Linked DNA regions of Homo sapiens: region 1 is linked to region 2. The links come from fine-mapping of genetic effects on gene expression. A gene starts in region 2. The other region holds a variant in brackets. All regions are shown on one strand. Distances are between the middles of the regions. Region 1 has its middle 65 kb from the start of SPOCK1. Region 2 holds the start of SPOCK1 (SPARC (osteonectin), cwcv and kazal like domains proteoglycan 1).

The links. PIP is the estimated chance that this variant, and not a neighbour inherited with it, causes the effect.
Region 1: its variant is fine-mapped to the expression of SPOCK1 in whole blood (TOPMed, PIP above 0.99). The same link has a PIP of 0.9 or more in blood mononuclear cells.

What each region holds. Positions count from the first base shown.
Region 1 is chr5:137,562,605-137,565,514 of GRCh38, reverse strand. No RefSeq gene overlaps it. Among named protein-coding and RNA genes, the nearest start is that of SPOCK1, 65 kb to the right of the region's middle. The variant G/A (reference allele first, on the strand shown) is at 1,423.
Region 2 is chr5:137,498,149-137,501,058 of GRCh38, reverse strand. SPOCK1 (SPARC (osteonectin), cwcv and kazal like domains proteoglycan 1) reads left to right here and starts at 1,733. Exons shown (of 11, transcript NM_004598.4): 1 at 1,733-1,880; 2 at 2,501-2,686. The coding sequence starts at 2,501. RefSeq lists a silencer at 1,563-1,782.

The DNA.
Region 1 (2,910 bases), 64 kb before region 2:
TATTTATTGAATGTCTTGCCAAGCATGGGAGATAGGAGAATGAACAAGATGGGCAAGATCCCTGCTCTTACCCAGCTCTTCTGCTAGTGGGAGAGAGACCATGAAACAAGATTGTCAAAGTTGAAGGGTTTGGGCCCCTACCTAGTTCAGGGGGCTTCAGGGAAGGCTTCCAGAGGAAATGCTATCTAGGGTGAATAATGAGTATGCACTAGCCAGGTGAAATGAGGGGTGAGAGAAGAGTGCCCGGAGAAAAAGGAAGAACAGACAGTTCTAGAGGTGAGAGAATGGGGCTTGTGCAAGAGTGAGGGTAGGCTGGGTGCGGAGGCTCACGCCTGTAATCCCAGCACTTTGGGAGGCCAAGGCAGGTGGGTTATCTGAGGTCAGTAGTTTGAGACCAGCCTGACCAACATGGTGAAACCCTGTCTCTATTAAAAATACAAAAAAATTAGCCGGGCATGGTGGCGGGAGCCTGTAATCCCAGCTACTCGGGAGGCTGAGGCAGAAGAATTGCTTGAACCTGGGAGGCAGAGGTTGCAGTGAGCCAAGATTATGCCACTGCATTCCAACCTGGGTGGCAGAGCAAGACTGTCTCAAAAAAAAAAAATGTAAAGAGGGATTCAGTGTGGCTGCAGCATGGGTGCAGGGTGAGGTGAGGAAACTTTGTAAGATTTCCACTTTCCTTGCTCTCCTGGAGAATGTGTGGGGGCGTCCTGAGTAGTCTTGGTGGCAATTGTCCAGTGCAGTCATCCTGAGCACACTAAGTCCTATTCACAGCAAACTAAGATGTACTTCTCAGCCCACTGCACTCACAGGTCAAGTAACAAGACAGAGCAAAACATTCAGTACTGCTCTAAACAGCCATTGTTTGTCATTCTATGTGCTCCATCTGTAAAGGCCTCCTGCAACTGGGGCAGCAAAGAGGCGGCTCCCTTGTGCAGACGTTCCCCAGCCGCCCCAGCAGCCCAAAGATGTCAGGCAATATAACAATGTCAGGCAATACGGCCTATATGAGGGGGGTGTGACACTGCTGATGTCAGAAGTCACAGGAAGTAATTATTGCAAACTCTTAGAGCATACTTACTGCTAAGAAGCCTTTGTATGGATGTCCTGAGCCCTGCACCCATGAATTGACGTAACTGTAACGACAAGGGACGGCTTTTTGTCATTTAACGAAAGGAATGGGGGATAGCAGAGATATATCGGCTGCAGTGACCTTTCACGGTAAGCAGAGAAATGCCAGTGTTGAAACAATTATCTCAAGTGCCCGCGGGTACCAGCTTCCTGTTGATAACATGTGGTGCTAATTACATTGAAGAATTTAGGGCAGATATTGTGTCTAGAATTAATTGGCCTGCAGAAAGGCTGAGCCTGGCTCAGGACCAGAAGCAAAGATGTCAGCCTCTTTCAGCGCCAAATGTGTGG[G/A]GCAGCTTCGCCTTCTGGCTTCCTCCTCTCGTGACTTGGGATGAGGTTCCTCTCTCCTCCAGTCACTGTGCTTTATTGCACTCTCTTAACCTTTTCAGTGAACCAAAAATTTGACTGGTCAACCACTCACCCCTTCTTCTGTTTATAGTCTTCCAGACCTGCAGGGGAGGAATCAGTGGCCAGTTAATCAAAATACTCTGTGTGGAAAAGGTCAGCATGGTGGGGTCCCTGCAATATATTTCCCTAGAATGGGAGGTGTTAGCATTCTGCCTCTGCATGCCTTTCCGTATTACCCAAGTCGAACCCTGTAGTCAGGAAATTGCATCAGTCTTGTGGGTTCCTGATGGCTATGATTTTAATGAGAGAGGAACGGTGCCAAGTCTGATCAAGTTGTTCTTTCCTCCTACTGGACCACTGTTATTGGGAAAGGTGGGCAGTGGTGCTGGGAGATGCTCAATGATTTCCCTGCTGTGAGCACCCAGTCCCTCCTCTGGACTCTCTTCTTTCATAACAGCTAATTACAAGTGTAAGTGCTGATGACAATATTAATTAGCCTTCAGCTGGGCTGCTTTGCGCCAGGCCCTGTGCCAAGCATTTCACATGCATTGTCTCAGGGAATCTCTGTTACAGCCTTGTGAGTTTATTATGCTTCTTTGTGAGACAGGGAAACAGAAGCCCAGAAAGTGTAACTAACATGCTCAGGCCACCCAGCTAGTAAGCAGGAGCCAGGACTTGAACTCAGAGTTTGACTCCAGAGTCACTTTGTTTCAGTCGCCTATCCCCACCAGATCCTGAATTCCATAAGGACAGGGATGGCGGCATGCTGTTTTGTTCGCCCTGTGCCTTCGCTCCTAATATAAGCCAAATACAAAGGGTGGGGGTGCTCACAAGGCACTTGCTAAGTAAATAAATGAACTTAACACCCAAACCTTGTATGAGTGTGAGAGCAGGAGAAGCAGTCTGGAATCAGGTTCACACTCTTTCACCCGCTTTTGTGTGTTTTACAGATAGGGTCTGGAGGGATGGCGTGAGGGCCCAGGCATAGTGCTGGTGAGTGGTTTGCTGTTCTTAAAGAATCCAGTGGGCTGGGAGTGGTGGTTCACGCCTGTAATCCCAGCACTTTGGGAGGCCAAGGCGGGCGGATCATGAGGTCAGGGATTTGAGACCAGCCTGGCCAACATGGTGAAACCCTGTCTCTATTAAAAATACATAAATTAGCCGGGTGTGGTGGCACGCACCTGTAGTCCCAGCTACTTGGGAGGCTGACACAGGAGAATCGCTTGAACCCAGGAGGCAGAGGTTGCAGTGAGTCTAGACTGTGCCATTGCATGCTAGCCTGGGCCATAGAACAAGACTCCATCTCAAAAAAAAAAAAAGAAAAAAAAGAAAAATCCAGTGAAAGCTGCTGTGGTTGTCAAGGTAAACTCACTTCTGAGAAATAAAGACATTGTTGCCATTGAAGGTAATTGTGGGCCATTTGGTATCATT
Region 2 (2,910 bases):
CCCATCTAGGGGAACTCAACAGGTTAGTGCTGGGGCCGGTTCTCAAGGGGCAGGACAGTGGTAAGCATGGCATAGGGCATGGGAGTGCAGAGATGCAGGTGGGTGCATGACTTGGGATGGGCAGTGCAGATATTCACTTATCCAGGGAATGGCAGGACGGTGGTTATCAAACTTTGCCATGCATAAAAAACGCCTCGGGAGCTCATTAAAAGTGCAGACTTGGAAGCTTTCCTAAGGAATGCTGACTCAGCAAGTGGGGCGGTGGGGCAGGAATCATTTTTAGGAAGTTCGCTTCTCTCTCCACCCAGGTGATTTTGATCTAGATAACCCGACGGCCTTCCTTTTGAGAATGCCTCCATGCTGGCCTGCGTCTTGGCCTCATATCCTCAGTCCCCTCTTCTGTCTCGCACCAGCCTGGGCCTGAAAGCTGATTTTAGCCCTGCATTAAGATGTGAATGACCCAGGACATAGGCGTGGGCAAGGACTTCATGTCCAAAACACCAAAAGCAATGGCAACAAAAGCCAAAATTGACAAATGGGATCTAATTAAACTAAAGAGCTTCTGCACAGCAAAAGAAACTACCATCAGAGTGAACAGGCAACCTACAACATGGGAGAAAATTTTCGCAACCTACTCATCTGACAAAGGGCTAATATCCAGAATCTACAATGAACTCAAACAAATTTACAAGAAAAAAACAAACAACCCCATCAAAAAGTGGGCGAAGGACATGAACAGACACTTCTCAAAAGAAGACATTTATGCAGCCAAAAAATACATGAAAAAATGCTCATCATCACTGGCCATCAGAGCAATGCAAATCAAAACCACTATGAGATATCATCTCACACCAGTTAGAATGGCAATCATTAAAAAGTCAGGAAACAACAGGTGCTGGAGAGGATGTGGAGAAATAGGAACACTTTTACACTGTTGGTGGGACTGTAAACTAGTTCAACCATTGTGGAAGTCAGTGTGGCGATTCCTCAGGGATCTAGAACTAGAAATACCATTTGACCCAGCCATCCCATTACTGGGTATATACCCAAAGGACTATAAATCATGCTGCTATAAAGCCACATGCACACGTATGTGTATTGCGGCATTATTCACAATAGCAAAGACTTGGAACCAACCCAAATGTCCATCAATGATAGACTGGATTAAGAAAATGTGGCACATATACACCATGGAATACTATGCAGCCATAAAAAAGGATGAGTTCATGTCCTTTGTAGGGACGTGGATGAAATTGGAAACCATCATTCTCAGTAAACTATCGCAAGAACAAAAAACCAAACACCGCATATTCTCACTCATAGGTGGGAATTGAACAATGAGATCACATGGACACAGGAAGGGGAATATCACACTCTGGGGACTGTGGTGGGGTGGGGGGAGTGGGGAGGGATAGCATTGGGAGATATACCTAATGCTAGATGACGAGTTAGTGGGTGCAGCGCACCAGCATGGCACATGTATACATATGTAACTAACCTGCACAATGTGCACATGTACCCTAAAACTTAAAGTATAATTAAAAAAAAAAATAGAAGTAAATTAAAAAAAAAAAAAAAAAAAAAAAAGATGTGAATGACCACGTTCCGGGCTGGGGCGGCCGGGCTGTCGGGCAGGCAGCGCGCGGCCACCAGGGGGCGCCAGAGCCTTGGCTCGCGCGCTCGGCCTCCTCCGCCCGCGGACGCCGCGCCCGAGCCAGCGAGCGAGCAGAGCACATCGCTGCGGGCTCACAAAGCGGCCAGACGCTCGGCGGCGGCGTGTGGCAGGAGCGCAGGGGCGCGAGCCGGCGATCAGCCTTCCCGGCGACCGTGCCGCGGGAGCTCGAGCAACTCGGACTAGGGGACCCGGGCCGGCCCCCAAGGTACGTGCCCAGAGGAACCCCGCGCCCCAACTTGGAGTAGTTGGGACCTCCCCGCGGCCGCCTAGGGGGCTGGCAGGGTCAGGGCCTGGGGTTACCTCCGCGCGCCTTTCTTACCCCCGAGACCTCAGGGCGCTCAAGGGAGACCTTTCCCTTAGCTGTCGCCGGGGACCCCCAGCTGCTGGCAGCCCCCACCCCGCTTGCCGGAGCTCGGGTGCTGCTGGAGCCCTGTTCTCCCCTCTCCTGCCCCAAAGCCGTGTGCACCGCACCGTCTGTGGGAGTGCGGCGTGCGGACCCGGGCTCCCCGCTTCTGGGGAGGGGTACCAAGCCCCTGATAGGAGGGCGGCATCTGTGGGGCACTCGGAGAATAGACGAGACGGGTCCCCTGTAGTTGGACGGCAGCCTCGGATTCGTGACGCAGCCTCCTCGTTCGTAGATGAGTCCCCCATTCGTGAGAGGGGTCCCTGGGTCTAGAGGCGCGACAGGCGCCCCAGGTGCGCGAGCGCTGCCCGTGCCCGCCGCGGGGTCCCCGCCTCCGGGCTGGGGCGCTGGGACGCCTGGGTGCCCGGGGCTCGCGGCCGCCCGCCCTCTTCGCTCATCGCCCTGCGCGCCCTGCCCCGCAGATGCCGGCGATCGCGGTGTTGGCGGCGGCCGCCGCGGCGTGGTGCTTCCTCCAAGTCGAGAGCCGGCACCTGGACGCGCTCGCCGGAGGCGCGGGCCCCAACCACGGCAATTTCCTAGACAATGACCAGTGGCTGAGCACCGTCTCCCAGTACGACCGGGACAAGTACTGGAACCGCTTTCGAGACGTGAGTACCGGCGCCACCCGGCCCTGGGGGGCGCGGAGCCTCTCGGAGGGGACCCCTGAAGCGGGGTTGGGGTGTGTGTGTGTGTGTGTGTGTGTGTGTGTGTGTGGTTGGGAGGGGGACAGGTGGGCATCTCCCGCGGGGGCTGGTCGGTCCCAGCTTCCTGGGTGCGGTCTTGCCTGAAAGGAACTTTAAAGAGAACTTCGAAGGCTCCATGCGCTTGCCTG